Regions from separate parts of the Homo sapiens genome. Here region 1 is linked to region 2. The links come from fine-mapping of genetic effects on gene expression. A gene starts in region 2. The other region holds a variant in brackets. All regions are shown on one strand. Distances are between the middles of the regions. Region 1 overlaps DGKD (diacylglycerol kinase delta). Region 2 holds the start of DGKD (diacylglycerol kinase delta).

The links. PIP is the estimated chance that this variant, and not a neighbour inherited with it, causes the effect.
Region 1: its variant is fine-mapped to the expression of DGKD in whole blood (TOPMed, PIP above 0.99).

The regions. Positions count from the first base shown.
Region 1 is chr2:233,437,619-233,452,281 of GRCh38, forward strand. DGKD (diacylglycerol kinase delta) reads left to right here. Exons shown (of 30, transcript NM_152879.3): 9 at 599-761; 10 at 4,269-4,377; 11 at 8,005-8,144; 12 at 9,094-9,178; 13 at 10,469-10,563; 14 at 10,658-10,757; 15 at 11,485-11,758; 16 at 12,364-12,513; 17 at 13,304-13,432; 18 at 14,346-14,442. Among named protein-coding and RNA genes, the nearest start is that of DGKD, 90 kb to the left of the region's middle. RefSeq lists enhancers at 5,961-6,070, 6,091-6,140, 13,077-13,640. The variant A/G (reference allele first, on the strand shown) is at 8,546.
Region 2 is chr2:233,345,271-233,362,383 of GRCh38, forward strand. It overlaps DGKD (diacylglycerol kinase delta), which reads left to right and starts at 9,224. Exons shown (of 30, transcript NM_152879.3): 1 at 9,224-9,404. The coding sequence starts at 9,249. It overlaps SAG (S-antigen visual arrestin), which reads left to right. Exons shown (of 16, transcript NM_000541.5): 15 at 1,133-1,142; 16 at 1,537-1,785. The coding sequence ends at 1,642. RefSeq lists enhancers at 4,231-4,330, 8,674-8,733, 8,874-8,923 and a silencer at 9,174-9,413.

The DNA of each region.
Region 1 (14,663 bases), 91 kb after region 2:
AGGAGTTGCACAGAGCGGCACACGGCGCCCTGATGCTGCGGCATTGCCCTTAGATGGGCCAGAGACCCAAGCCTGGCACTTGACGTGGAGGTGATGCTGTTGAGTGGCACCCAGGCTTAGACAGGCCTGAGACCCGAGCCTGGCACTTGACGTGGAGGTGATGCTGTTGAGTGCAACCCAGGTCTGGGGCCTTCTCCGTCATGAGCCATTGAAGCTGTGCCCCATCTCTGCCTAGCACATGCTGGCACACTGGCTTGCAGCTGCTCTCATGTCTGGCTGGGACATGGTGGCACCTGTTGACAAGTACTGGTGGAAAGGGGGATGTGGGGTACATGGCTCAGAGGAGATCAAGAAGAGAAGACAGCAGAAAGGTGGCATTTGGACAGCTTGTGAATGTGGAGGTCAGATGGATGGGGCTCCCGGCCTCACACATGGAGACCGGCTGTGGGGAACTGTTCACTGACCTCCTCCTGACTTACAGGTGTGCATGTGTCAGGTGTGTGTCCTTTGGGGGGGTCTGCTGCTGCTGATTCCATCAGTGGTGCCCTCAGCGTCTTCCGTGGCCTATATATTTTCTTCTGTTCGTTCTTGCGTCCAGGGTTCTGGAAGGCCAGCTGTCCTCCTTCTTGCACAAGCCCACTGTTGGTCTTCGTCAATTCAAAAAGTGGGGACAACCAGGGTGTGAAGTTCCTCAGAAGATTCAAACAGCTACTAAACCCCGCCCAGGTCTTCGACCTCATGAACGGAGGCCCACACCTCGGGTAGGAAGCTTGTAAAATATATCTTTCTTGGAGTTTTAAAAATTGTGTAGATAGTGTGTGCTTGTTAAAAAAAAAAAGTTCAAAGACACAAAGCTTTAAATAGGAAAGAAAAGTTGAACTGCTTCCTTCCCAAATTGCACTTGCAGAGGTGCCCACTCTTAATAGAGGTGCATGGCCTTCCAACTTTGAACACAGTGCGCGTGTGCACACACGTACATACATCCATGTACACACACCCATGCACGTGCATCTTTTGAGCCAATCAGGATTCTTCTTTACCTGCCGTTGCACAAATGCCTTCTGTATGTGTCTGCATACAACGTTGTGGGTGTATTTTCTTTCATTTTATAATTTTTTATTTATCTGTCTATCTATCATCTATCTATCTATCTATCTATCTATCTATCTATCTATCTATCTATCTATCTATCTATCTGTGGGTGTATTTTCCTGGCGTGCCTCGTTCTTTGTAACAGCTGCCTAACATTGAGGAAGAAGCTGTCCTGCAGCGAGGCCAGGAGGAGTGTTTGCTGAGAGGCACAGGAGGCCGCTCGGTGTGCAGGTGCTGCAAGGCAGGAACACGTAAGGGCGGCGTTGGGCCAGAGCGATTTCCACTGTGCATCAGCAGCACAGAGATTAGACTGTTCCTCTGCTTGCTGGAGAGCCATGTGTGTTCTTTGTAGTTTTTTACTTTTCATAAGTTTGTAGAAAACATTTGCCTTTGTGAATTTTGCCATTTGAATGAATTTCTTCCTCTGGAAGCATCAGTTCCAGGTCGGAGCTCTAAGAGGACTTGCTGGCACTGCCGGAGATGTCCAGGATACCCGTAGTGGGAAGTGCCTGCAGAGCCTGTGGTCTGGCCTGTATTTCTCTGGGAGGAGTCAGTGGGGTCTGTGTATTAGGAGCCAGGGGCTACTCTGATGTGAACCTCGGCCAGCTCCCTGCGTGTCCTTGGCGTACATGCCAGGGTAAGAGGAACATGCTGCTCGTCGTTGGTCCTGTGGGTGTCTTCTGTGTTGCTCATCCCCACTCACAGCCAGGCGCAGTCGGAGAGCAGTCACAGATGGCAGCATTCCAGCCTGCTTCCGCAAAGGCAGTACTCCCACATTTTCTGTAGAAAGACTTCTTATCTGAATGGTGGAGGATTGCATTCACTAGTAGGCTGATCAAGATATTTTAATTTTAATTTTACTGTTTTTTGAGACAAGAGTCTTGCTAGGTTACCCAGGCTGAGTACACTGGTGCAATCCTGGCTCACAGCAGCCTCAACCTCCTGGGCTCAAACCACCCTCCTGCCTTAGCCTCCTGAGTAGCTGGGACTACAGGTGTGTACCACTATGCCCAGCTAATTTTTTTTTTTTATGTTTTGTTGAGCCTCACAAAACTTTTAAAATGTTTTGTAGAGTGGTCTCACTGTGTTGTCCAGGTTGGTTTCAAACTCCTGGAGCCAAATGATCCTCTTGCCTCAGCCTCTCAAGAGTGTTGGATTACACTGCCTGGCAAAGAAATAATTTTAGTTAAAAAGTGGGGAAAGTGGAGATATAATACGTCTGTTATCACAATGCACCAAGCAGGCTGAGGTTGTTATTAAACATGGTACCAGGGGTGTTGGAGGAATGCTGTGAAATGGCTGTGGGCAGGGCAGGTTACACAGCTGAACTCGAGAATAACGAAATATTCATTTTGGTGTGCAAGCAAAACCCCATGTTTCGTAGTGGGAGTTAAGTATGAGATGGGATGATTTAGGAAGCCCCCACAGCGGCGTAAGGGGAGTTGAGTCGTCATTTACCATTTCTGGAAGCAGCTCATCTCACACAGCTCACAGCAGAATCTGGAGCTACTGCTTCATGTTCCAGTTCCTGGCCTTGACCTGTCACCTCTTCTCCCGAGAGCAGGGGGCCTTACAGGTGTCAGTGTTCTGTGTGGAGCCTGGGCTTGGTGCCGCATCACCTATGCCTGTCTGTCTTCTGAGCACTCATTCTGGGTCAGACACTGAGCTCGAGGCAGGGTGCGCAGGTGAGCCAGGCGGGGAGTGCAGATGCAGGGAATGGGTAGGAGCACACGCAGGGTCCCCCGGCACTTCAGTGGGGGTGACACAGCTTCTCTGGGAACCCGGTGGGGGCAGGGTCGCAAGTCAAACTGGGCGTCCTTCCACGTCTCCCCGAGCTGGCATCCGAGGAGCTCTAGTGTTCTGAAGGCTGCAGGGAGGCGGGAGGCTTCTGGGCTGAGGGCACCGCTTGTGCAGAGGCGAGGCAAGAGGGAATGCAGTGGGGCCAGGCCAGGCAGCAGCAGAAAGGTGGCACCTGCCGTCAGGGAGGGCTGCGGGTGCTGGCCAAGAGGTTCGACTCCTTCCTGCAAATGAGGGGCAGCCTCATAAAGCAAGGCCCGTGGCCAGGCTCGTGTTTTAGAAAGGTCTTCCTGGAACTCATGGGGAGCTTTCAGGAAGGGTGTCAAGGTGACTGAGGCTCCTGTGGGACTCTGCGAGAGCACGGTGGTGACCTGAGCGGGTGGCTGGGTTGGGTGTGGAGGAGAGGCTGCCAGGAGGGGCTGGGTCGGCTGCAGGCTGAGAGGAGGTGGGTCTGGCCTCTGGACTGGGTTGGTGGTCGAGCTACCATTCTCCGAGTAGGGATGTGTCCTGTTGGATGTGCCCTGGGATACCAGAGTGGTGTGTTCTGGAGGACAGGTGCAAGTGTTGGCTTTCAGGAGTGGCCTGGGGGCTGTTGATCCAGAGTCACCTGTGTGGTCCTTGAAACTGGATGTGGTCACACAGGAAGAGGATGAGGAGTGAGCAGAAGCGGCACTGGTCTCCTGAGTGGGGACGCTGCTGGGCAGGGGCAGGGGGAGCCCAGGAAGGAAGGAAACCGAGGAGTTAGGAGGGTAGGAGGCGTGGGTCACATCACCGGAGGACTGAGTGGGCCCAGGCATATGTGCTGCAGTGGGGACACGCAGCCCGCAGCAGGTCAGGCAGCCTGGGGCTCCAGGGTGACCAGAACAAGGGCCAGGGCGGAAGCCAGACTGTGGCCCAGGGCCGGGGAGTGCCAAGACTGAGGGTGCAGGGTGATGCAGGCAGCCCAGAGGGCATGCTGGGAAGGCTGGCAGGGGCCACATGTGGATGGGGCAGGGACAGTGACGCAGGGTGGGCTCACATGGTTAGGGGCCACGGCAGGCTGTGCCCGTGAGCCTGGCAGGGGATGCAGTTTTGGCCCACCACTTTGCCTGTGATGTCTGCAGAGCGTGCAGTGGCTCACCAAGCTGAGTGGTCTTGTCGCTGGGTGGGGCGTGGCTGGTGGGAGCAGTTGGCTGGACCCCAGTGCTGCTGTCGTCCCTTTGACAAAGTGGACCCTGAGTGGAGGCGGCTGGTGTCACGTGGCAGGGCCTGTGCGTGCTCTGCCTCTGGTGCAGGTCAGCCATGAGGAGCACAGGTGGCCCCTCAGCCCCGTACTGACAAGCCTGTCATTTGTCCTGTGGAATGGATGTCATTTCACGGCCTTTCTCTTTTCTCTGCAGCTTACGGTTATTCCAGAAGTTTGACACATTCCGGATTCTGGTTTGTGGCGGGGATGGAAGTGTTGGCTGGGTCCTCTCCGAAATCGACAGCCTCAACCTTCATAAACAGGTACCAGGACAGGAGGGAGCCCAGCCAGGAGCAGAGAGGGTGCGGAGGTTAGAGGGAAATCATGCAGTCTCAGCTCCTGTTCATCTCGGAGCACCTGTTCTCAGGCCAGAAACCATTGGTGGTTTTGGGGAGTGTGCAGTTTGGTGGCCAGGGCAGAGAGGGGAGAGCCTGGGCCACCCCCTGGCATTGTGGAGGCCCGGGGGCTCTGGCCATGATGTATGAGGGGGACCTGAAGGGAGCTACGAAAAGAATTGCCCACAAAGGACCCACATGGGGAGCAGGGCTGGGTGGGGCTGTTGCTTTACTGGGTAATTTTTGTCTTGAGGCCTCTTGCTTGTGAGAAGGGGACGGCAGTATACTTGAGTTTCTCAAGTCAGAGTCATGGTTCATTGGACTTAGTTTTTTGTATTAAAATAAAAATAGATTTTCCTGATTGTGTATAAAAATGTTCATATAGTCATTTAATTTCCACACCAAGCCACGGCCTCCCCAGGTGATCAGCCAGTGCCAACATTTTGCTGTCTCTGACCTCTCTTGATCACAGTACATACAATGCACAGTGCACTTGTAATTTAAACGGGCTATTCTGTTACTGCTTTTGTTGTTGTTGTTTTTGTTTTTGTTTTTTTGAGGTGGAGTCTTGCTCTGTTGCTGGGCTGGAGTGCAGTGGTGCGATCTCGGCTCACTACAACCTCTGCCTCCCCGGTTCAAGTGATTCTCCTGCCTCAGCCTCCTAAATAGCTGGGATTACAGGCGCACGCTACCACGCCCAGCTAATTTTTGTATTTTTAGTAGAGACAGGGTTTCTCCATGTTGGCCAGGATGGTCTCGATCTCTTGACCTCATGATCCGCCCACCTTGGCCTCCCAAAGTGCTGGGATTACAGGCATGAGCCACCGCGCCCGGCCTGTTACTGCTTTTAAAAAACCACTAATTAAGATGTTGCAGACACCTTGTGCCTGTGTCTGTAAGTAGGCATCTGTGTGTCGTTTTCCACTGGACACACCCGGGAGCCCAGGGCCAGCTCACCTCCATGTGTGAGCACGGAGATCACTTCCCAGTGGTCTCCTCTCTGAGCGCACCCAAGCTTAAGTATTGAAATGTGCTGACAAACTGCCTTTCCTCAGGGCTGTGCCAGCTTCCATGCCTGATGCCTTTAAAGCTGTCTTTCCCCGTGCACCATCCAAGCTGTTCATCTCTTTAGTTTTTGTCCAGCTAAGTAGACCAAAAAATGTCTGACCTTTACTTCTTTAATTCCTGGTGAAGTTGAACGCCTCCTCAGTTGGTTATGAAGTTTTAAATAAATCACCTGTTCATATTTTTTTTTGCCTCATTTTCTCTTTGAGTATTCACCTTTTTTTCCTTTAAAAATGGGTGTGTGAGGATTATTGTTACATTAACTTCTTATCTGTCACTGCAGATATTTTTTTCCCGGTTTGTCGTTTGTCAGTTCAACATCCTTTTTGGGGGGTGGTCTTTTCTTTCATGATTTTTGTCAACGTCTGTCATATTTGCAGCTGCCTACACCCCAAGATTAAGATTTGCATCTGTATTTTCTTATGTTTATTATGGCCCCATTTTTAAAAAATTCAGTCTTCTGTGTGACGTGGATGTATTTTTCAGTGATTCTGTGGTGCCTACCCAGCTCTGCTCACTTGGTAGTATTTCCAGGTGGGTGGATTTGACAGCTCGGGCCGTGAGGCCAGTGGCTCAGGAGGAGAAGTGGTGCCGCCTGCTGGTGGATTAGCATAGACTACTCTAATTTTTGATTTTGTGTATTACTTGCAAGTTCACTGTCACTAGTTAGGAAGACAGTGGAACCTTGTGGCTGATTTTCATACGTTCAGCCAAGGTCAGCACACATTTCTCTCCCCTGCGTCTCTTTGACACCTGATGTGGTGGCCATGCCTTCGCTGGGCCCCTGCCGCCTCGGGGTTTCTTGTCTTCCTGGCTGCTACTGCTCCATGGTGGCCTCTCCCTCCTTACCCTTCCCTTAACGCTGTGTCCTCAGAGCCTTGCTGGGGCCTCTCCTCCTTCGCTTTTGAACGCTCAGCGACTTGCAGGGCTTCTGCTGTCGTCTCTCTCCTGGGGGCGCCTCAATTGATAGCTGAGCCTTGGGCCTCTCTGGATGTCTCCTAGTGCCTCGAGTTTCCAACACTACACCACGTTCAGCCCCCACCCTGCGTTCCTTTCCTTCGAGTCTGAAAACATCATCCATCTAGATGTCTGAGCCAGGAAATCGGACAGTTGTTCTTGGTTCGTCCGTCTCTTCCTCCTGCCTGTTTCTCACTAATTGTGTCCTCAGTCCTGCCACCCACAGTACCCTGGCCTCTGTCCATCTGCAGCTCACCCAGGCGACCTTTCCCGGGGCATTTCTGCCTGTGCACCCCCCAAGCACGATGCTTCTGGGAAAAGTCCAGACCTTTAAGAGTCCCAGCTTTGCCTCCTGCTTGCTTCTCTGCCTGTCTGCCTCCTGTTTCCTCGCTGTCCTCCTCTTCACTGAGCTCTGCCTTGCCCCCTCCCAGTGGTGTCTCCCTGCCTGGAGCACCATCCATGCCTGCTGTGCGCTGCTCTCCTTTTCCTTTAAGGCTCCAGGAAGCCCTCGCGGAGTCCTCAGACCCTCTGGGCACCCTTCAGCACTGGGTTCTCTCCATCTAGTGTGTCGGCTCCGGTGTCCTGGCCTGCTCGCTCCTGCCTCCCCTACTGCCAAATGTCCCCTTGGTGAGGCAGGACCTTCCCTGGTGTTTGCTGTCCCCACAGGCGGCAGGGCCTCAAGCATGGTCACCTCCACCTGGTGGGCAGAGGGCTGTACGGTGCTGTAGGCTGGACCACGGCAGGTTTCCTGCCTCAAGGACAGTAACGCCTCCCCACACACTCCACCGCAGCCTTCATGGCCCTGGTCACTCTGTTGTCAGAGTCAAAGGCTGGTGAGCTCTGGGCAGTGGGCATTTTAAGAGGCCTCCTAAGCAATGGAATGGTGTAGTGGGATCTCATTGGAGCTCTGAAATGGGAATCCAGGTGGAGGGTGAGGCCTGAGTAATGCATGAGGTCTCTTCCTGGAACAGCAGGCAGGCGGGCAGAGGCTGAGCTCTGGCAAGGCTCCAGGGTAGCCTCCAGACTGAGGATGGTCCTGGCACCTTTTTTGGATAGGATTTAGAGGAGAGAAGTGATACTAGTGATGTTTTTGGAAGAAGAATTTGGCATTAGTGAGTGAGATGCTGTAGTGGATGGAGGGACGGGTGGCGAGGCATCAGAGTGATTCCTTGGGGCTGTGGTCACGGTGGTGAAAATGGGAAGCAGAGGGATTTGGGAGACAGATCAGAGAGGGTGTGAGGGGCTGACCATCAAGATGTGATGACAGCTGAGAGATGGACCTGTGGCTCATCCATTTCTCCCAGAAGCAGCATCTTATCTCAAGGGCAGTCATGTTTCTGTCTCATTGCCAAGGAAAATGCCATCTGTCCCCTCCAGTGGGCTCTGCCTGTAATGTGTAAGCTGCGTGGTTTTAGGTCACGTCCCCACATTGCTAACGTAACCCTCACGGTGGGGGACAAGGAGGGCTGCGGGCTGGGAAGTGGCCCCTGCCCCCAGGTGTTTGCCTGCGCATCGTCCCCCATGTTTCCTTAGTGTCAGCTGGGAGTGCTGCCGCTCGGCACAGGGAACGACTTGGCCCGAGTACTGGGCTGGGGCTCAGCCTGCGATGACGACACCCAGCTCCCCCAGATCTTGGAGAAGTTGGAGAGAGCCAGCACCAAGATGCTGGACAGGTGAGTGGGGATGTGCTCCGGTGCCGTATGAGGAGACTTTGAGAGACAGGTCCCTTTGACCAGGTGTTCTTAACCTGGGGTCTGTGGAAAACATGGGCCCTCTGAAATTATTTGTAAAGATTTGACCTGAGTATATATTCGGATAGTCTTTGATATTTGGTCAGATTATGACAAGGATAAAAACAAAACAGGTTAAGAACCAGCCATGCCCTAGGATGATCCAGTCTTCCCAGAAGGCCAAGCCTGAGTGTGTCAGGGCCGTGGAGAAGGCAGCTGTGCCATCTTTGGCTGCTTCAGCCCGAGATCTAATACCCATCGGAAGAATGCTCCTTGTCGTTTACTTGAACAGTTTCATTTTCTCATATTCTGTTCCCAGAAGAAGTTTTGGGAAATTATCCTCT[A/G]GTGCCTAAAGCCACTGTGACACCTTCCCTGAGTAAGGTACTGTTGTCCCGAGTGACACACTTGGCACTCACTGACCACATGCCTGTGGCACATGGGGTGCTGATGAGATGCCTCCTAGCCTTCCTAGTTGCTCCCAGAAGCCTGGAGTTCTGAGCACAGTTGTGGTTTTGCAATGCCCCCACCATTTCAGGCCTCCTCTGTGTGCCTTGGGGCCTGTGAAATGCTCATCTCACTGGGCCAGCTGGCTGAGCCATTTGCAGCTCTCTTGAGGAGGGTAAATCCATTTCTCCCAGAAGCAGCATCTTATCTCAAGGTAGCCATTTATGGGAGACCTTCCTCTCTTTATGGAGCTGTACTGCCGTTAGTTGTGGAGTGCAGACATTTGTTCTCAGCCAAGTTATGGGACAGAGTCAAGACCAAGGGCCTAAAAATGAAGTCAGAAACGGTGTAAAGATCAAGGCTGCCAGCCGTGAAAGCGGACGGCGCAGGGTTCACCCTTGTGGGCCTGCACGTCTTGCCGCCTGTGCAGCTGACCTTGTGTGTGCAGGTGGAGCGTCATGGCATACGAGGCCAAGCTCCCCCGGCAGGCCTCCTCCTCTACCGTCACCGAAGACTTCAGCGAGGATTCCGAGGTATTGCTGGCCTGTTCTTCACACCCTGCTCGCATGCTGATGTGATCAGAACTGTCCTGTCAGCGGTTTGCATCACCTCCCTTGCAGAGACGCCTCCCCTTTGGTGTTGGGGTGTCACAGTCAGGCCTGCGGAGGCGCAGGGTGAACCCATGGCTGAGAGGATTCTCACTCCCCTTGGCAGGGGCCTTTTGGGCTTTGTGACCCTCTAGGGGCTTCCTGGGGTTGTCATAGGCCCTGCCGGGTGGTGGGGTGGTCCTCCTAATGGCCTTTCCACCCTGTCCGTGCATCTCCTCAGCTGCGCAGTGAGCCCCAAACGGTGCGCGCCCGTTCCCTCCCCCGCCGCGGTGCCCACGTGCCTGGAATGCTCTAGCCGGCTCTGCCGCGGCTCTCCCCTAGCCCCCCGGCTCCTGCCCCGTCCCACCTCTCTGTGGCGTCTGCAGCTGCCCTTCGCTCAGGCTCCTCTAGTCCAGCTGGTGGTTCTTTTCATTTGGTGATTGTTACTGTTGTGTTTAACGCTCCTACAGTTTCCCTCAGAGAACAGACTTTGTCTTTAGTTTCTATTTTGTGCTGGTGCAGTGCTGGGTGGGGTAGTACAAAGAGGTGAGCTTTTGTCAGGGGCTAGGGCAACGGTCAGCAAACAAGGCCTGCAGGCCAGATGTGCCTGGGCCCACGGCCTTGCAAGCGAAGACTGGTTTGTACATTTTTTATTTTTCCTTTTTTTAAAAAAAAATTTTTTTTTTGAGAGGAAGAGTGTGTGGGGGAAGCCCAGAATATTCGCTGTCTGGCCAGTAGTGAAGTTTGCGACCCTGGGGCTGGGTCCTAAGGACAGCAGGGATCCCACAGGGATAGGGCTGCCCTTCTGACAGCCAGAACAGATGGTGGGGGCAGGAGTGTGTGTCCAGATGGGGCTCACAGCCAGGTGGAAACAGCCTCTGCTGCAAACGGACCCAAACCTGGAGCCGACCCGCCAGCATGCCGCTGTCAGGATGAGTAGGGGTCAGGACGGAAGCTCCTAGCACAGGCCGTGCTGGGATCGCAGACTGAAGGAGATTCATTTGCAGTTTGCCTGCAGCTTGACGAAGCTTTTAAAATCTCTCACCTAGCACTAGGTGAGTCCCAGATTAGCGTTAGAAGTGAGTTGAGGCTTGGCTGGGTCAGACAGTGTCTGTTAGGAGAGACTCATCTTTCCCAGCTTGTGCTGGCAAGGAAGTGGCTGACAGAGTCACTGGGACTGTCATGGAGCTTGCTGTCACAGAGACCAACAGTCCTGGCCATTTGGGGTGATTGCAGGTACAGCAGATTCTCTTCTATGAAGACTCGGTTGCAGCCCACCTTTCTAAAATCCTCACCTCGGACCAGCACTCGGTGGTCATCTCCTCGGCCAAGTGAGTGCCTGGTGGCCCTGGGGAGGGCATGGTGCCCTGGCCCCCAGCCTGGAGCTGCCTCTCTAGAAGGGTCTTTCTGTTTTTCTCCCCACAGAGTGCTCTGTGAGACGGTGAAGGACTTCGTGGCACGGGTGGGGAAGGCCTATGAGAAGACGACCGAGAGCTCGGAGGAGTCAGAGGTCATGGCCAAGAAGGTCTGTTCCCGTGCCCTGGGTGGGAGGGGCATTGAGGCAGCGAGAAGCTTGCTCTGTCACCAGCAGAGGGCCGTGACTGCAGGTTGTCCAGGTTCTTGGTGATTTGAACAAAGAATTAGACAAAACGCACAGTAAAGGAAGACAAGAATGAAGCAACAAAGAACGAAGGCAGGGATTTATTGAAAATGAAAGTACACTCCACACTGTGGGAGCTGCCCGAGCAGCGGCTCAAGGGTCCAGACACAGAATCTTCTTGGGTCCAAATACCCCCTAGAAGTATCCCATTGGCCACTTCATGCTCACCTCATGTAAATGAAGTGGTAGCTTGCATTCAGTCTGATTGGTGGCAGAAAGCAGCCAACCAGAGGCTGAAGTGGTTACAAAGGTCACACTCCTGTGCAAACATCTGATTGGTTGCAAAAAGCAACCAATCAGAGGCTAAGGTGAAGTTACAAAGTTGCATTTCTATGCAGACTAAGACTCAGCTCGCAATCAGTATGGTTGGTTGTGGACAGCCAATTTCCCCAATTTCCCACCTGCCAGGGCGGGAAAGGTGGGGATTTGCAAAGGGAGTAGCCTCTGGTCTTTTTGTTACTTAGGCGTGGAGAGTTAGGATTTTCCTTTTGATCGAGTTCTAGGAAGTCTGGGTGAAATGGCCTGAGGTTCCCTGCCTGCAGACCCTGTTCTCCTGCCTCAGCTCTGCATGCCATTTCCTTTCCTTGTTCAGTGCTCTGTCCTGAAAGAGAAGCTGGATTCCCTTCTCAAGACCTTGGACGATGAGTCCCAGGCCTCGTCCTCTCTGCCCAACCCGCCCCCCACCATTGCCGAGGAGGCTGAAGATGGAGATGGGTCGGGCAGCATCTGCGGTTCCACCGGAGACCGCTTGGTGGCATCAGCTTGCCCGGCCCGGCCGCAGATATTCCGGCCTCGAGAACAGCTCATGCTGAGAGCCAACAGCCTGAAGAAAGCAATTCGTCAGATCATAGAACACACAGAAAAAGGTAACTGGCCTTGTGATGAGGAGGGGCTTTCCTCAGGCCAGCACTGGGCATGCCCAGCGTCCCCTGAACACGGAGATGACAGAAGGGTGCATGTTGAGAAAACCTCCACTGCGGCCCTCTCCACCCATGTCCAGGCACCAGACCCCCAACGAGTTCGCTTGCCCTCCTTCCACCCCTCCTCTCACACCCTCAGACCCCTTCATGCTGCCTCCCCTCGACCTCTTTCCTGGCCCTCATTGACTTCACTATAAGCGTCTCACTCCCGTGAGAGCCTTGAGGTCACGGCCTCACACCCGCACACCTGCGTGTCCATGCAGCCGCTCCTCCCGCTTGCAGCCCTCCAGCCTGCGCCAGGCTCCTCTGCATCCCTTGCCTTCCCCTGCAAGGGTTCCAGACCTCCCAGCCTGTTAGCAGGGACGCCCTGCCCCAGTGCCAGGACCAGGGGGAAGATGGGTGGGGGTGGGGTTTCGGAGTCCAAGCCTTTAGCCAGAGGTTGTTTGAGGAAGATCAGGCCGTGGGGTGAGGATGAGGGGCCCTCCACCCAGCCTGACAGCGCCCTTGGCTTTGCACCCGCGTGCTCAGCCGCACACACTCTCCTTGCACAGCTGTCGATGAGCAGAATGCCCAGACCCAGGAGCAGGAGGGCTTCGTCCTGGGCCTCTCTGAGTCAGAGGAGAAGATGGACCACAGAGTGTGCCCACCACTGTCCCACAGCGAGAGCTTCGGGGTCCCCAAGGGGAGGAGCCAGCGCAAAGGTACTTGTGCCTCCACCTCCCTCTGCGCACCGTCGTGTGCTTGGTTTTGGTGAGACGTAGCGGGCTTGCCAGGGGAGGTTTTAGGGCACTTTCTCATAGTTGCTTTGGCCACTTGGTTACATAAAAATTGAGCGCCCAAGGCCTGTTTCTGTGCATCTCCTGTGCGCGCCCTTGAGGTGGGTGTGTGCGGTCTGTCTTGGTGGACAGCAGTAGAACCCGCGAGACCCCCTCCATCAGGGCGAGGACTGCCTCCCTGAGGAGCACTTGCGTCCTGCCCTCACTGCTTCCTTGGAACCACACTGGGCCCCAGAACTGCTCAGAAGGGGCTGTGTCTGGCAGAGGGAAGGCGGGTGGGTGAGCGTGGGCCTTCTTTGTCCTTGCCCCTCCTGGAACAGCCCACAGCGCAGGCCCTGGTGGAGGGCACCCCCAGCCTGTGCAGGCTGCTGGGAGGCCCATGCTCAGAACTGACCCATGGCCACTGCATGGCCACCACTGAGAGCTCTGCTGTGTGTGTGCTCCGCCTCCCACAGCCCGGACTGACTGGGCTCACCCCTCCCTCCAGCGCTGCCACCTGTGGCCTGTGTTAACCTCTCCATGAGCCCAGCCCCCCAAACATGTGCACCCACTCGGTCCTCCGCCCCCTTCTTTGTCCCACACACTTCACGCAACTGCCTGTGGTTTGCAGCCCTCCCTCCTCAGCCCTCCCACCTGCTCGTGTCGCTAAGGACCCCCCAGGATTTCACAGTCTCTATTCCACACAGCTGTAAGGTTTTCTGCTGTGTTGTTACAGTGTCGAAATCTCCGTGTGAAAAGCTGATCAGCAAAGGGAGTCTGTCCCTAGGCAGTTCTGCTTCCCTTCCGCCCCAGCCGGGAAGCCGGGACGGCCTGCCTGCGCTCAACACCAAGATCCTGTACCCAAGTGAGTGGCGGCCAGCAGGAGGGACTGGTGGGGGCCCTAGCACAACACTGGTCCCGTCAAACTGAAAGAGATGGGCTCGCTGCCCTCGGAGAGTTTACAGGCCCCTGAGAAAGATAGGTGGAATTGAAAAATTTACACGACTGTATGAAAAGTGCTTTTTTTTTTTTTTTAAAAACAAAAAACAAAAAACAAAAGCCAGATAGTACCCAAATAACCACCCAAGGAGCCCAGGAGGCGCCATTGAGGAGGTGATGCTCGAGTCGGGGTTGGAAGAATTAAGGAATTATCTGAGTGGAAAAGGGAGGTGGCCGGCCTGATGAGGGAACCCGAGGGACCATCCCGTGCTTCTAGCGTGGTCGCAGGAGGCGCAGGGAGGGTGAGGTCCTGGCCGCCTGGAGCATTCCTTGATATTCATTCCTTAGGAAGGCAGCCTTATAAAGCCTTAAGCCTCAACTCTCAGAGATCATTTTGGTGGAGTGGCTTACATTTAATGAGAACATGAAAACTGACTCTATAAGCCTTTTTTTTTTTTTTTAAAAGAGGGTCTCTCTCTATTGCCCAGGCTGGAGTGCAGTGATGTGGTCATGGCACACTGCAGCTTGACCTCCTGGACTCAAGTGATCCTCCCCACTCAGCCTCCCAAATATCTGGGACCACAGGCACACACCTTAGAAGCCATTTTTTTGTGTGTTTTGTAGGTGTTGGTTTCTGCCACCCAGTATGGTTTCTTTGTTCCAGTGATTTTTGACCTAAGACTATTGGCAAAATTTGGACATGGTTATACATAATTTTAGAAACATTTAATTATAATAACGTTCTGCAGAATACCGGTCCACCAGCTTCAGAGACACGAGCTTCTCCTAAGGCTGTAGCTCCTGACCAGCACCACCTCTTTCTTGTATCTCCTTTACAGATGTCCGGGCTGGAATGTCTGGTTCCTTACCCGGTGGCTCAGTCATCAGTCGCCTGTTAATTAATGCTGATCCCTTCAACTCTGAACCAGAAACCCTGTGAGTATGAGGGATAAACCGAGTGGGCATATTGTTACATGGCTGCTAGTGCATAGAAAACAGATCTCAGGATTAACTAGAGAAATTAGTGAGCAGTTGCCCAGCTGGTGGTAGCTGATAAGGAAGGCTGAGAAGTCGTGGAGATTCCACTTAAGGAGTGGAGCTGGAAACCACTACTGCACATCTGCTGCAGAGGCAAAGCGCACGCCTCCCATCTCCTT
Region 2 (17,113 bases):
CGGCTGGGGGTTGGTCCTCAAGCTTTAATGCACACTCTAACCCTGGGGTGCTGGTGAACGTCAAGTCCCAGGTCTCAGGCCTCTGAAGCCTGACAGATGGAGGTGCCAGGGTGCACATGCTCACGGCACCCTGGCGACCCTGACCTCAATGGGGTCCCGAGGACATGGAAGGAGAAATACTTTGAAAGGCGAAGCAACTGGCTGGGCAGGGAGGCCAAGGCGGGCGGAACACTTGAGGTCAGGAGTTCGAGACCAGCCTGGCCAACACGGTGACACCCCGTCTCTACTAAAAATACAAAAATTAGCCAGGCATGGTGGTGGGTGCCTGTAATCCCAGCTACTTGGGAGGTTAAGCCAGGAGAATCACTTGAACCTGGGAGACGGAGGTTGCAGTGAGCCGAGATTGTGCCACTTCACTCCAGCCTGGGCAACAGAGCAAGATGCCATCTCAAATAAATAAATAAGAAAGGAGAAGCGACATCAGAGGGGGCAAGGCTGATCAGGGAAAGCATCCTAGAGTTGAGACTGGGGGGGTTTCATGTGAGGAGGTGAAGGCTGTGGCACATTGTAAAGGAAGCAGTGATTTAAAATGCAAGGAGAGGCCGGGCGCAGTGGCTCACGCCTGTAATCCCAGCACTTGGGAGGCTGAGGCTGGCAGATCACTTGAGGTCAGGAGTTTGAGACCAGCCTGGCCAACATAGTTGAAACCCCTTCTCTACTACAGATACAAAAATTAGCCAGGCATAATGGCGCATGCCTGTAATCCCAGCTACTTGGGAGCCTGAGACACGAGAAACTCTTGAAACCAGGAGGCAAAGGTTGCAGTGAGCAGAGATTGTGGCACTGCATTCCAGCCTGGGTGACAGAGAGAGACAGTCTCAAATAAAATAAAATAATAAAATAAAATATAAAATAAATAAAATGCAAGGAGAAAAGCTGTTCCAGTGGGAAAGGCAGGGAGGCAGGAATTACACGCAGTGATCATGAACTGCATGTATCTAGGCCTTATCTCTCAAATTGTAAAGTCACCTAAAAGGTAGACATTTTCTAGGTACAGCTATGATATAGAATTTAGACTAACAAATGTCTCTCTCTCCCTCTTCCCTGCCTCCCTTTTATTCCATGCTTACAGCTAAGGAAAGGTGAGTGAGCCTCTTGAATGTGGCCCTGATTTGTCCTATGCTCTGGGACCTTCTCCTCCAGCACAAAACCCTCTTTGAGTCTTTGCACATATCCCAAGCTCTCCTGCCGGCTCAGGAGGCACATCCGCTACTTCCCGTCTGCTCCCTAGTGCTTACGGCACGCACGCACCATTACACTGGGTGTGCTTGCTCACTCTGCGCGTGCCTTTGTTTTCTCCCATTGGTGCTAGTTAAAGGAATTTTAAACGAAGCCTTGAGGAAAATGGCGTGCCCCCATGTTCTATCATGGGGAAAACCTTGATCAGTTCCTTCGTTGCAAAAAGATCAAGGATCTTGTTTCAGTTTCAGCTTCAAAGGGCGTGCAATGATCAAAATGTTGTTTGTTTTATTTTAGTTATCAGGATGCAAATTTAGTTTTTGAGGAGTTTGCTCGCCATAATCTGAAAGATGCAGGAGAAGCTGAGGAGGGGAAGAGAGACAAGAATGACGTTGATGAGTGAAGATGTCGGCTCAGGATGCCGGAAAATGACCTGTAGTTACCAGTGCAACGAGCAAAGCCCCACAGTTTAGTCCTTTGGAGTTATGCTGCGTATGAAAGGATGAGTCTTCTTCCGAGAAATAAAGCTTGTTTGTTCTCCCCTGGGTCATGAGTTGGTTGATTTGTTGGGGAGGCTGAGTTGATGACATGACACAAGCTGCCACCATTAGGGTCCCTGGAGTGGGAGGGTTGGGGAGAGGGAGGCCAGCCTCCCACGGAAGGGCTCACCACTCCCATGAGGGAGAGAAGGCGTCTGGAAATCAATGTGCTCACCAGGTGGGGCCCTCGGTGTGTCCAGGGGCTTTCCTAGGAGTCCCAGTCTGAGCTGTTTCTCTGGAAACAGTGCCTTCCCGTCTGTCCGTCTGTCCTTCCTTCCTTCCTTCCTTTATTCCTCCCTCCCTCCCTTCCTTCCTTCGTTTCGCTCTTGTTGCCCAGGCTGGAGTGCTGTGGCGTGATCTCAGCTCACTGCAAGCTCCGCCTCCCGGGTTCACGCCATTCTCCTGCCTCGGCCTCCTGAGTAGCTGGGATTACAGGCGTGTGCCACCATGCCCGCCTAATTTTTTGTATTTTTATTAGAGACAGGGTTTCACCATGTTAGCCAGGCTGGTCTCAAACTGCTGACCTCAGGTGATCCACCCACCTTAGCCTCCCAAAGTGCTGGGATTACAGGCGTGAGCCACTGCGCCTGGCCACCAGTGTATGTTTCTAATTACCTGACCAGTCCCAACTTCCAGGCCCCTAAAGAGCCTCCTAAGTTAAATAGGGCAGAGAACATCTGTGGACAAAAATACTCTTGGTTAATGATTCAACTTTTGGGTCCAGGTGTCTGTTTGAGCTTTGGGTTGTTGGTAAAGTTCTATTCAATGCAAGAAGCAAAATCAGATTTGGTTAAATTAAGGTGGGGAGAAGGAATGTAGTGGGAGGACCCCGGTGTGATCAGAGAACTGAAGGACAAACCTGAGCTGCCACACCTGGGGTAAGCAGGAATCAGAGAAGCTTCAGGGGTCAGGGACCCACTCTCCAGGGCGGCTCTTCATGCAGCTCAGCACCATACGTTCCCAGCTCTGCGTCTCTTGGTCCCAGTGGGCAGTTATTGGGAAGGAGAATCCAACTGGCTCAGCTTTGGCTGGGAGGATCAACACCCCGTGGTCAGCGATGGCAGAGCCCAGCCCTGGAGATGGAGAGTCCCAGAAAAGGGGGTTGATTGTGAGTCACATGGGCTTACTTAGAGCGTGCTTCACTGAGACTGGGCGTGAGAGGCATAGGGGAGAGCACTCTGAGTGTCAGGGAGGAAGGTGAACTGCAGGTGGAGGAGGGATAATAGAGGTGATACCAGGGCCTTTCCTTTGTGGGGTCCCTTCCTGCCCTGAGGTACCCACCGGGCCTGCTGCTGATGGCACAGATACTGAACAGGCTCATGGCGGCCAAGGAGAGGATGGAGATGCATAGGCTCTGGTCCATCTCTGGTCCATGCTTTAAGGGAGCAGGGTAAAGGGGGGTTGGAGATTCCTCCACAGTTCAACCCACTCACAGAAGGCAGAGGGTGAGTGGGAGGGGTTCTAGATGGGGAGTACACGTGGATCAGGCTTCTGGGATGGAACATGGCGACAGAGGGCTGGCCAGGGTATGGGTTCCATACACATGAAGGTTCCCAGCATCTGGGGTTGTTCAGAAGGATTCCAGCTGTTCGGGTCCTGGAGATTGGGATTTAGATGAGGAGGCTCCACTTGGGAAGCTTGGATGGGATCCCAGACAAAGCGAGGTGTGGACCCGTGTGCTGGCTCACGCATCCTGGCATTGGGAGGAGGATTTATAATACACTAGACTACAGGTGGAAGATTGGTCCTTCAGGCTGCGAGTTAGCAGGATCAGACACAGTCCCTCGTTCTTTTTCTCTCTATGCTAAGGTAATGGTGCACGACCATTTCAACCCATGCTCCCCTCAGGGCACGCAGACAAGGGATGGCCAGGGTGGCACACTCCTCTGAGGATTCCCAAAGCTGTTCCCCATTGCACTGAGCCCTTCCCCTGTCCTCTGCCACAGCACACAGGCTGCTGTGTTTAGCTCCTGCTAGAGCTCTTGGGCTAGCCCAGGGCCTGGGATTCTGCCCTGTGGTGCCTGGTGAGAGGACCAGCCCGTTGGTTCCTGCATTGCTTGACCCCAGGACATCCTAAGTCAGGGTGGACGTTAATAAGCCCGACCTTTGGAACTACGTGGGTGAGAGAGCTGGAGGGAAGGGCTGGAAGACCAATCCCTGGAGAGCAGAGGTCAGCACAGCCCTTACCCTCCTAGTTATTTTGGTGCCAAAATGTCTCGATACGCCCTCCAGGTGCTGGCTTGTTTATGGCCTGCAGCTGGCCACGCTGGGGAGGGAGTTGGGGGAGGAAGCGAGCAGCCAGCTGCCCTGAGCAGAAAGTGGAAGCTTGGCTCAGCTCAGCCTGCACATGTGTGGGGCTGTCTACTGGCATGTAGTGTCCCTTGGTATCAGGAGGCAGGAAGTCTACGTGCAGGTTGAATGTGTGGCCCAGAGTTTTTGGGACAGATGCAGTGCAAGAAACGGGGTACAGAGCAGTTGAAGGTGCTGCATGGAGAAAGTTCTGCAACCAGCAATGAAGGGCTGGAGAAGGGGGATGGATCCCTGCTATTGATGGAGTGCCTACCTTGTGCCAAGTACTTCACATCTGACATGTAACCATTTCAGTAGTACTTATAAATCAGTAGCATCATTCATATTTCTTAGATGAGGAAATTGCGGTTCAGAAAGGTTATGTACCTTACACATAGGTCACACAGCTAGTGAGAGTCAAGGCTTGAATGCTGGTGTCCCTGAGTCTATAACTAGACCTTTGCCCACTGTATGGTGCTGAATGGAAGTAGGAGAGTTTGGTGGAGTGGGGGGAGGGAGATTAGCATTTAGGATTCAACAACAACTGCCCTTGGCCCTTGCTATTTTTTTTTTCCATTGAAATTTTCAGGCTGGGCGAGGTGGCTCATGCCTGTAATCCCAGGACTTTGGGAGGCCGAGGCGGGCGGATCATGAGGTCAGGAGTTCAAGACCAGCCTGGCCAACATGGAGAAACCCCGTTTCTACTAAAAATACAAAAAATTAGCTGGGCATAGTGACAGGTGCCTGTAATCGCAGCTACTCAGGAGGCTGAGGCAGGAGAATCGCTGGAACCCAAGAGGTGGAGGTTGTAGTGAGCCCAGACTGTGCCATTGCATTCCAGCCTGGGCAACAGAGCGAGACTCCATCTCAAAAAGAAAAAAAAAAAGAAATTTTCATTGAGAGACTTGCACATTCACATGCAGTTGTAAGGGGTAATACGGAGAGACCCCAGGAACGCTTTACCCAACTTCCTCCAGTGGCAACATCATGTAAAGCTACAGTACAATATCCCAGCGGGGTATCGACGTGGGTCCAGTCTGCTCATCTGACTGAGATCTCCACAACTGGATTTGTACTAGTGTGTGTATTCAGTTCTCTGCAATTTTGTCACATGTGTGGTTAATTCCTTTTTAGGGTGTCTGTTTTCCTACTCCTTTAACATTTAAAAAACCTTTCTTCCTTCCAGTTTCATTTCACAGGACTGAGTCGCATTTACTGATCTTTGAGGAGTAGGGCAGGTGCGGGGTGGGAGTTGGGGACATTTGGAAATGTGTATGGTGGTTTTTGGTTTTCACATGCTTGGGGACCAGAAGCTCTATGTCACATGCAGTGGAGAAATGTGCTGCTCCAAATGACAATCATGACCCTAGTTCAGGGTAAAAATTGGATGATTCCCATGTTTTCAAGTTTCCCTTTTATATTCTCCAATGTGAAGTGGTTCTTTCTGACAGGAGTTGCGCCTCTTCACTGACGTGTCACAAAGAAGAATTAGGTTGGACGTGAAGTGTGTTATTACTGCCATCTTGATATGCCCTCAAGGTGGGGTAGACTCAGGGAGCAGGCTGTCGTTAGAGATGATTCATAGTGTGACTCATTCAATAAAGAGGCACCGGAGGGAATGTGCTCTTCCAGGCCACCGCTTTGGGGGAGTTGATGTCTCAGCCCTTCCTGAGATCTCCAGGGGAACAGCGCTGTGCGCTCACCAGGAGAACAAAAAAGCTGCTTCATCATCAAAGAACATTTATGCCAGTTTTCTTTGCTTTAAGAATATAATTCTTACCAAGCCTAATCCTCTTTTTTTAAAATACACTTTTTATTTTGAGTAGTTTTAGATCTACAGAAAAGTTGCAAAGATGTTATACTGAGGTCCCCCACACCCAAAACCCCCTATTATTAACCCTTACATGAGTAGGGTACATTTGCCACACTGAGTGACTCAAATGTTGTTTCCAGTAAAATATACTTATTTCTTTCCAACTTTTATTTTAGGTCCAGGGGGTACATGTGCAGGTTTTTTACATGGGTAAATTGCATGTCATGGCGGTTTGGTGTACAGATAGATACTTTTGTCACCCAAGTAATCAGCACAATAATCCCCGATAGGTAGTTCTTCAATCCTCACCCTCCTCCTACCCGGGAATCAATATTGATGCATTATTATTAAACTAAAGCCCCATACTTAATTCTGATGTCCTCAGCTTTTACCTAATGTCCTTTTTCTGTTCTGGGATCCCATCTAGGAACCCACGTGACGTTTAGTCATCATGTCTCCTTGGCTCCTCTTGTCTGTGACAATCTCAGTACTTTCTGGTAATTGCAGATTTCCTCCTCTCCAGCCACGGTTTCTGCTTCTTAACCGTCACGTTCATGCCCTTGCCTCCTTGACTCTAAAATGATGAGTTCTGGGGCCTGGATGTCCCCTGAGCTCCTAACAGGTGTAGGCAACAGCATTTATTATTATTATTATTATTATTATTATTTTTGAGACGGAGTCTCGCTCTGTTGCCCAGGCTGGAGTGCAGTGACACAATCTCGGCTCACTGCAACCTCTGTCTCCGGGGTTCAAGTGATTCTCCTGCCTCAGCCTCCCGAGTAGCTGGAACTACAAGCGCCCGCCACCACGCCAGGCTAATTTTTTGTATTTTTAGTAGAGACGTGGTTTCACCGTGTTAGCCAGGATGGTCTCGATCTCCTGACCTCGTGATCCGCCTGCCTCAGCCTCCCAAAGTGCTGGGATTACAGGCGTGAGCCACCGCGCCCGGCCGGCAACAGCATTTTAATGGCCTCCCTATTTCTAGTCTTCTCTCCTATGGATCATTCTCTGCCCAGACACATGAGTTCCTCTGCTTTCCCAAACCCCCTTGCCAGCTCCAGTGCCCACGGGACTGAAGTCCTTGCCTCAGAGCAGGGCCGGGAGGCTACTCTGCATCCTGGCGCCGCTGCTCACCTCCCTGCCTCCCGCACCCGCCTTGCTACCGGCTTCACCAAAATCCCTCGTCACCCGCTCTGCTCACCTGGTAGGGGTAGTCTCCCCGTTTTTGCGTTTTCCTGGGAAACTCCCTTCATATCTGACCTCTCCATTCCAATCCCAAACCCTGCTCAGGTCACCCGGCTCCCCCGCGGAATGAAGGAATGAACTGTTTCTTCCCCTGTGCGTCCCCGCCCCTCCTCCGCCTTGCACACTCCTCCAGGGTTTTGCCTCTGTGTATCACTCCACATGTAGTTAATTGATAGAAAAGTCCCAACCCTGTGGGGAGGCTGGAGCCCTTTGTGCCTGCATGAGTTCCCTAGGGCTGCCAGAGCACTGCACCATAGGCCGGGCGGCTTCCACCACAGGAATTGACGCTCTCGGTTCTGGTGGCTGGAAGTGCGAGATCACGGTGTCGGCAGGGGGAGTTCCATCGGAGGCCTTTCTCCTTGGCTTGTAGATGCCATCTTCTCCCTGTGTCTTCACATGGGCTGCCCTCTGTGTGTGTCTGTGTCCTCATCTCCTCTTTTTATGAGGACGCCAGTCATACCGGATTAGGGATCACCCCTGTGACCTCATTTTAACTTCATTACCTTTTTAAAAACCTTAACTCCAAATGCAGTCACATGCTGAGGTACTGGGGGTTAGGACTTCAACATATGAATTACGGGAGGACACAGTTCAGCATGCGACTGTGCTGCAGAACTTTCTGGGGGGACGGGGGAAGTGTTTTATATTTGTGCTATCCAGCGTGGCAGCTGCTAAGCCACATGCGGCTACTGAGTCCCTGAAATGTGGCTCCTGTGGCTGAGGAACGGAATGCTGAATTCTAACTAATTGAAATTTAAGTAGCCACATGTGGCTAGTGGCTATAGTACCCTGGGGCACCATGGGGCCTTCGGCCTGTCCCGGACTGTTCCTGCCTTAGGCCTTGTCCTCCTCTGTCCTGGCCGTGAGCCCATGCCCCTGGCCGTGTCCCCATGCCAGATGCCACTCTGCAGCCCCAGGTCACTGCCCAGGGCGGCGCGGCCAGCGAATGCCTATTGGCAGGCGAGGTCTCTAGCGGCAGCCCTTTGACAGGGAGAGGGCACACCTGGGCAGTCCCTTACTGATTTGCCCCTCAGAGCAGGGCAGACAGATGGACAGCATTTCCTCTGGGTGGCACCAAGCCCTGCTCCACCTGGATGGCACCAAAAACTTAGCTGATCTCATCTCCAGCTTCGCTTCCTCCTCTTCTGCCCAGAGCAGCGCTGGACCCCACCCGCCCACCATCCAGCAGCCCCCCTGGGAAACATGGGACTCGTTCTGGTCACCTCTGTCTCCCTCCAGTCGCTGGTCACTCCCCACCTGGATCTCAGTCCACGTCTCTATCTCTCAGCCCCTCGGTAATCCAGGGCGTCCACCTGCCCTGATAACTTCAAAGCCCGGATCACAGGCCCCAGCGTGGTGACCCAGCCCCGCCCAGGGTTAAATCCCTCAAGGGCTTCCTGCTGCCTTCCATCCCCTTATCTGGTTTCCAAAGCCCGCTTCGACCTGCCCGCCCCGAGGCTCATATCTTAATGCCATTTTCCTTGCTCTAAGCACCAGCTTCCCTTTCTTCCCCCGTCTTCGCCCAACACTCGTTCTTTCTTGCCTCCAGGCCTTTGCACAAATCTGGTCTCTGCCTAGAACATGGTTCCCTCTCTAGTCACAACTCCTGCTCACATTTTCCATCTCTCCTTAAGAACCGTTTTCTCCAGGAAGCCTTCCCAGATGGAGCGGTGCATCCCAGCTCTGGCGTCCCGAGGCCCGTCCCAGTACCGGGGTCTCTTTCCAGCACGCGCGCGCGCATTCGAGCTCGCCCCAAACTCGGCCACACAAGGCTGGGCAGGACAGACACAGCCCCAGCCTGCCTGAGGTTACCTACATTCTGATGCGGAAGAGTAGAGATGTTTTAAGAAGTGAATATAGAAACAAGAACACAAACGGCGTTCCAGAAATAACACACAGAAGCCACGGCCCGGAGAGGTGGGCGGGGGGCCCGGGACGCTTCAGGTGGGGGCGGGGAGGGGCCGCGCGGCGCCGTCTGCAGCTGCGCGCATGGCCGGCAGGGGGCGCGGCGGGGAGAGGCGGGAGGCCGCCCCCACCGCCCCCGGCCCGGCCCGCCCTCGGCCCCGCCCCTCCCGCCGGCCCCGCCCCGCCCCCGCCCGCGGTGCGCGCGCTGGCCCGGCAGCATGGCGGCGGCGGCGGGCGCCCCTCCGCCGGGTCCCCCGCAACCGCCTCCGCCGCCGCCGCCCGAGGAGTCGTCCGACAGCGAGCCCGAGGCGGAGCCCGGCTCCCCACAGAAGCTCATCCGCAAGGTGTCCACGTCGGGTCAGATCCGACAGAAGGTGAGCCCGCGGCGCGGCGGCCCGGGCGCGCGCCCCTCACGCCGCGGCAGCCCCGGCCGAGGCCCGTGGCCCTGCCCGAGCGGCCGCCCAGGCCCGGCTCGGCCCGGCCCGGGGTCCCGCGGGCGTCACCGCCCCTGTCGAGCGTGCCCCGCCGCTGTAACGGGCCGGCGCCCCGGGCGGAGCGCGCGGCCCCCGACGGACGGCGGGCGGCTGTGGGGCCGGGCGGGGGGCGCGCAGGTGGGCGCCCCGGGCGCCGCGCGCTGGGCGGGGGGCGCGCGCCGAGTTGGGCCGCGAGGACCCGGAGGAAACTGAGGCCTAGATGCAGGGGACTGCGCTCGTGCCACCGAGCGGGTCCCACGCGGGGGCTCCCGGCTGCGCCCCGCGGGCGTCCGCGGTCCCCAAACCCCGGTTCTGCACGTTTCTCAGGAGCGGTCGGGTGGTGTCCCGCGAGTGCCCTGCAGACTTCCCTGTGGTGCCCTCAGAAGTCCGCTCGGACCCGGGTGCGAGGGATCACCCCTTCACCCCTTCATCCCAAAAGGGAAGGAAGGGATGCGCGTTCAGTGACCGTCTCTCTCAGCAAAGCCGGGACCGCGCACCCGCTTGGCACCCAACTCTCCACGGAGAACTCCTGACGCTAAATGTTAGATAAAGACGCACGTCCTTTTTGCAGGAGGAAAGTTGCACCGTTTGTTTTCCCATTGTGCTTCCTATTGAAAACAGCTTACGGTTTTTGCTCCAGGTGAGCCCGCCCGGTTAGAACACTGCTTCCTCAGGCAGGTGGCTGGACAGGTGGCTGCGAGCAGGCTGGGTCCCTGGGGCAGCTCTGGCAGATCCGGTTGGCACGGACTTTCTCCTCCTGCTGCAGTGCGCTTTTCCTCCGGGGCGGATTAGGTTCAGCCGTTCCCTTCACCGTGGGAGCCTTCTCTTCTGTCAGCCTTTGATACCTGCGATGGGGGAACCTGAGGTCCTAACATGTTACAAACAGGTTTGTTGTGAAGTGCTCCAGTTATTCAGCAAATAGGTACCGAACACCTGCTTTGTTCCGGGTATAACAGTAGCAGTAGTGATGATAATGATAGCAATAGCAAATAACAATTCTTTAATAAGCCTTCTATGTGCCAGGCACTTTCTTGGGTTAGCTTTACAGCACTTGACATGGTTAGTTTATTAGTACTGGTGAGAACCCAATAAGTTGGATGCTATCATCTCCGTCTTTTGGAATTGGAATAGAAATAGAATCAAGGTTAAATGACTTGCCCAGGGTGTCACAGGTCGTAAATGTGGATGTGTGTTGGAACCATGGTCAGGACCGTAAGATGGAAGGCAGTTTCTACACCTAGGGATTCTCAGTCTAGTTGGGAGATGGACGCCTGTGCACCTGACATGACAACATTGTAAGTGCCGCGGAAACTCGGGGCAGAGACCTGCCCTGGGGAGGCAGGAGTGGTTTCCTTTAAGGTGAGATCTTGAGGGATAAAGAATTCACCAGGCTAAGTGGGTAAGAAATGGCCTTCTACATATTTGAACCTTGCGTCTAGAGCTTTAGGCACAACTGCGAAATGATCAGAAGTTGGGCCAGAGGTGGATCACGTTGATTAGACTTATTAGTTGGAAGGGTTGGTTAGGGCTGAATTTCGAAGGGGTGGTCCTTTGAGGGGTTTGCTTTTTGGCCTTGGGCAAGAGGTGGCCACAGAGGATTGTTCAAAGTATGGGGGTGATGGATCAGATGTGCTTTTGGGAAGATCTCCACATAGCCCTAAATGATACTGATAGGAGTTGCTTTCTCCTGTTGCCCAGGCAAGGTACTGACCAGTGTGGGGTAGATCATGTGATTTACAAGGTTGATTAAGATCAAGATTGTGTTGAGAGAGATTTGATTCCTGGGAGATTCCAGTGTTTAGAATTTTGTTGGTTAGGAGGTGTTTTTGCTTTCCTTCTTTTTTCTCCTAAAACAATAGCTGCTATACCAGCTGTTCTGGTTGAGGAGGAGTGATGGGTAGACTGTTAAAAATACACCCCGAGGACTTAGAGTTTCTGAATACAGTCACATCTGCTGTACAGATAGCTTAAGGCTGATTTTTCTTCTGAGTTGTTAAGAGATTGTCAGAATGTGGGAATGCGAGGTTGACTGTATGTAATAGCTCCATTTTTTTTTTTTCCAGCAGATAAGCCATTCACAAAATTCCTCTGGTATCTATGGTACATAATAGAAACATCAAAAATGGTATGGGGTAGCAGTCTGAGTCTAAAAAGAAAAACAGAACTCACCTTAAGTATTTGGAACAGAAGGAATGTAATCTAGGGGAGTGGTCACACAGGTGATGTGAGAACTGAGAATGCAGGCTGCAATGAGGCAAGCCGGAGATGAGGCAACAAGCAGGAAACTGCTGCCACCCCTAAGTTGGAGGGTGAAGGAAGGAGATGGCATTTCAGACTCCAGGGACAGCTGTCACCCACCAAAAACTGGGGTCACAAGGGGTCCATCTGGCAGTGGCTGGAGCCTTGCAAGGGCACAGCTGCTGCTGCGGATGTACTGTTCCCCTCCTGCCTGGGAACCCTGGCCTTGCTGGGGTCACCTCCTCCACAACTTGGACTGGAGCAGAAGGACAAAGAATGGATCTGAGGACAAGCTGGCCCAGGACCAGAACTGTATGTATGTCAGGCTTTTAAAATATTAGTCTAGTGCAAGTCAGAGCTGTCTTAATGAAGAGAAAAACAAAAGAGAATGTCTTAGGGCAGTGCTCCTCAAATTTTAATGTGCAGACACATCTCCTAGGGATCCTGTTAAAATGATGATTATGGTTGAGTAGGTCTAGGGTGGGTGGGGCCTTAGAATGTGCATTTCTTTTTCTTTCTTTCTTTCTTTTTTTTTTTTTTTTTTGAGACAAGGTCTCACTTTGTCACCCAGGCTGGAGTGCAGTGGTGCGATCTCAGCTACGGCAACCTTTGCCTCCTGGGCTTAAGTGATTTTCCTGCCTCAGCCTCCCAAGTAGCTGGGACTACAGGCAAATGCCACCATGCTGGCTAATTTTTGTATTTTGTTGTAGAGATGGAGTTTCCCCATGTTCCCCAGGCTGGTCTCAAACTCCTGAGCTCAAGTAATACACCCACCTCAGCCTCCCAAAGTGCTGGGATTATAAGCTTGAGCCAATGCACCTGGCAGAATATGCATTTCTAACAAGCTCCCAGAAGATGCTGATGCTGCTGGTCCATGGACCAGACTTTGAAAAACAAGACCTTATGGCACACATGTAAAGAGAAGCCTCTCCAAACTTCAAATAATTCTTCAGGTTATAGATCTTTAGCATATTGAAAATTTGATGTGTGCAGATTTGTGATGGCCATTTATCAGTTTAGCATTTCATGCATGTCTGATTTTTTAATATGTTCGAGCTCTTTAGAGTTGAAGCTGTCCACAGCAAAGACATTACTTCATTTGTATTTCCTGACTACAGTACACAGTAATGACTCTGTAGAACTGCATAGCTAGAATGGAAAGAAAGAAAATGGAGCTAACACTCCGACCAGCACATTCACCAGCACATTATAAGGTATTTTGAAATTTCAGTGAAGAACCGTGTAATTCTGCAAAGCTATCAGTTAAAAGAGTTTAATTTATTTAAAAGTTTCTAGAAAGTTAACATTTTTTGGATATGAGCATGAAAGTGCTTGGATTCCTGATTTTAAATTTAAACAAAGCATTTTTTCCATTGTGAAATGAAGACTAGTAAAAATTAGGTAAAGGGTTTAAGTTGTAAAAAACTTAAAAAAATGCACCGCAGTTTTATGAGATATAATTCACATGGGATACAGTTCAGTGGTTGTTAGTATATTCGCTGTTTTGCAACCATCACCACAGTCAATTTTAGAACATTTTCATCACCCCGTTTCCTCTCAACTCCCTCAACCATAGGCAACAAGAATCTACTTTCTGTCTCTGTGTTTGCTGATTCTGGTCATTTTACATAAATGGAATCATACAATATGTGGTCTGGCTTCTTTAACTTAGCATAATATTTTTAAGGTTCATCCATGTCATGGCATGTATCGGTACTTCATTTCTTTCTGTTGCTGGGTAATATTCCATTCTACAGGCACACTGTATTTTATTTATCCATTTATCAGTTGATGGACATTTGGGTTATTTCTACTTTTTGGCTATTCTGGATAATGCTGCTGTGAACATTCATGCACATGTTTTTGTGTGGACATAGGTTTTCATTTATCTTGGCTATACACCTAGGAGTGGAAGTGCTGGGCCATATGGTAATACTACCGGACTATTTTCCAGCTAAAAAGCTGCCGTAACATTTTACATTCCCACCAGCTGTGTATGAGGAGGGTTCCAATTTTTCCACATCCTTGTCAGTAACTGTTATTATCTCTCTTTTGATACTAGCCATCCTAGTAGGGATGAAGTAATGTAAAAGGTTTTTAATGCCATTTTATTGTCGGATTTCAAAGTCTAAACTTTGGTGTCAGATGAAGTCACTTCAGACCCTGCGCTTCTAGTTATGAAGCATGCGATTGTGGACAGGGTGTCTAAACCTCCCTTAAGACGTGGTTTCCTCATCTGTAAACATGGAAAATATTAGTTCTTGGGTTGGTTGTAGTGAAAGTAAATGTTAACTCTGTGTTCCTGAGTCTCAGTTTCCATGTCTGTAAAATAGAAATAACAGTTGTTATATCCATAAAATAGGAATGGGGATGTTAACTCATAGAATTAAATGGGATAATTTGTGTAGAACACCTAACATAGTGGCTGATGTATAGTAAATGATCACTAAATGGTTGCTTTTGGTTATTTTTTGTCTTTCTGATTTTTTTTTTTTTTTATCCCAGATAGGAATCATTTCCCTGATTCCATTTTTCTCCAGCTCAGGCTGGTCTGAGTCTCCATCTCTCGGCTCCAGAAGAGCAAATACAAACAAATCTGGCTGAAAATTAACAAAGACCATTTTTTAAAGAAATCGTTAATTTATTGAGTACTAGTGGGAATACCATGGGCTAGGTATTACATTTTGTATTTCACTGGTTCAGTTTAACAGCAAATATTTGAGATCTTAACATTGTTAACTGTTGTGCGAGGCACCAGGGGTATCTTATTGAGTAACAACAAAAATTTTTAGAGATGATAGTCTAGAAGACATTAATAAAACAATCACACAGTTAATATGAAGTTGTGATGGGGACGGGTGCTGATGAGGAGAGGGCCAGAATACTTTGAGAGGACATCATAGGTGAATTTGACCTGATATCAGGGAGGTCTAGGAGGGCTTCTTGAGGCAGTGACTGGCTGGGTCTGGAAGGTGAGTAGGGAGCAGTGCCTTCTGCTTCTGGCAGTGGTGAGCTGAGTGACTGCAGCGCCACTCTTCCAAGCACAGTCTGCTAATAAGATGATGCTGAATTTCTGGACTAGGATCTGGGGTGGCTGAAGATCTGTGGAAGTGAGTGTGGTATTTGGGGCTGCTTTTGACCTTGGAATCTGTAGTGGCGTCTGTAGTGGATTTGGCATCTCTACCAAATTTGGTCCACCTAGAACTTCAGGATGCCCACATAATAAGATATTAGTTAAATATCTTTAAAAAAATTTTTTTTCTTTTTTTCTGAGACAGGGTCTTGCTCGGTCGTCCAGGCTGGAGTGCAGTGGCATACTGCAGTCTCTGGCTGGGCTCAGGCAATCCTCCTGCCTCAGCCACCTGAGTAGCTGGGACTCCAGATGCATTCCATGATGCCTGGCTAATTTAAAAACACATTTTTATGGAGACGAGGGTCTCACTATGTTGCCCATGCTTGGGGTCTCAAACTCCTGGGCTCAAGCGATCCTCCCCCTTTGGCTTCCCAAAGTGCTAGAATTACAGACATGAGCTACTGTGCCTGGCCAAAATTTTTTATTTTGAGATAGGGTCTTGCTATATTCCCCAGGCTGGTCTCAAACTCCTGGGCTCAAGTGATCCTCCTGCTTCAGGCTTCTGAGTAGCTGGGAGCGTAGGCTCAAGCCACTGTGCCTGGCTAATTAAAGATTTTGAGAGTAAATCATCGTGAACTTAGGAGAAACTCTAAATCCAGTGTTGGTTTCTTTATAAGAGGAAGGGGAGGGAGATTTGGACAGAAAGACATGTTGGGAAAAAGGTTATGGGAAAATAGAGCCGGAGATTAGAGTTCGTTGATGCAAACCAAGGAATGCCTGGGGCCACCAGAAGCTGGAAGAGATAACAGATGGAATCTCCCCTAGAGCCTTTAGAGGGAGTGCGGCCTTCTGATCCCTTGATCTCCGACTTCCAGCCCCCAGAGCAGTGAGACAGTCAAGTTTTTTTTTTTTTTTTTTTTTTCCAAGTTTTGTTTTAAGCCTTGAAGTTTTATGGCAGCCCTAGGGCAGCCCTGGGGAAAGAACACTGGGCCCTGAACAAAACATGGGAGCCAAGAGGCTGAGCCCTGTGAGACTGTCTGAGTGCCTTAGCAGGGCTGAGGTGCCAGGTTCTGCCAAAGGGCAACAGTCCTGGGTGACACCCTCCCCTCACAATTTGGATTGGGATCCAAAGAAGCCACTTCCAAGGAATGCGCAGGAGCCAGAAGTATTGGAAGGACTGCAGCCCTGCTTCAAATCACCTCAGTCCTCTGAAATTAAAGTAATCCCAGTGTACTAGTGTCTCTAGATTCCCAACAGAAGCAAACTTTAATCCTCTCTAGAGGGAGATATCTCCCTCTAATCCTCCCAGTTATCAATGGAGGCCTCTAATGACTTTCACGAGTCTGTTTGTACGTTCATGATTGTGCATACAGTAAAAAAATAGACATCAAGGGAGGCGAGGCACTTGAGCTAAAACCAGTCGAAACTACAGGCTGTAGACAGACCCACAGGGCTTCCAGACTCCAGACCCAGACTTTATAACAACTGTGCTCGTTGTGTTGGAGGAGACACGAGATCAGATGGAGAGTTTTGGCAGAGAACTAGAAACTATGGAAAAGAACCAGATGAAAATTCTAGTCCACACTGGCCAGATGGCTCACGCCTATAATCTCAGCACTTTTGGACTGAGGCAGGTGGATCATTGGAGGTCACGAGTTTGAGACCAGCCTGGCCAACATGGCAAGATCCCGCCTCTACTAAAGATACTAGACATTTTTTTTTTCTTTTAAGACGGAGTCTCACTCTTGTCACCCAGGCTGTAGTGCAGTGGCATGATCTCAGCTCACTACAACCTTTGCCTCCTGGGTTCAAGCAATTCTCCTGCCTCAGCCCCCCGAGTAGCTAGGATTACAGGTGCCCATCACCACGCCCAGCTAATTTTTTGGTATTTTTAATAGAGACGGAGTCTTACCATGTTAGCTAAGCTGGTCTCGAACTCCCAATCTCAGGTGATCTGCCCGCCTCGGCCTCCCAAAGTGCTGGGATTACATGCGTGAGCCACCTCACCCAGCCAATAAAAGAAAATTATAAAATTGAAAAAGCATAGTGATCAAAATTAACTAACCAAAAAAAGAGCAGATTAGACCCAGGCTGAAAAAATTGTGTGAACCAGAAGATAGCTCAGAAGAAAATACCCACAAGGAAGCCTGGAGACATAAAAAATGGAAAAATTTGGAGAGGGTGGGAGACAGATATAGTAAGAAGGTCTTACTTGTGTTTAATTGTCACAAGAGAGGAGAAGTGAGAGAAAATTGAGGAGACACAATATTTGAAAAGATAATGTGGCCAGGTGCAGTGA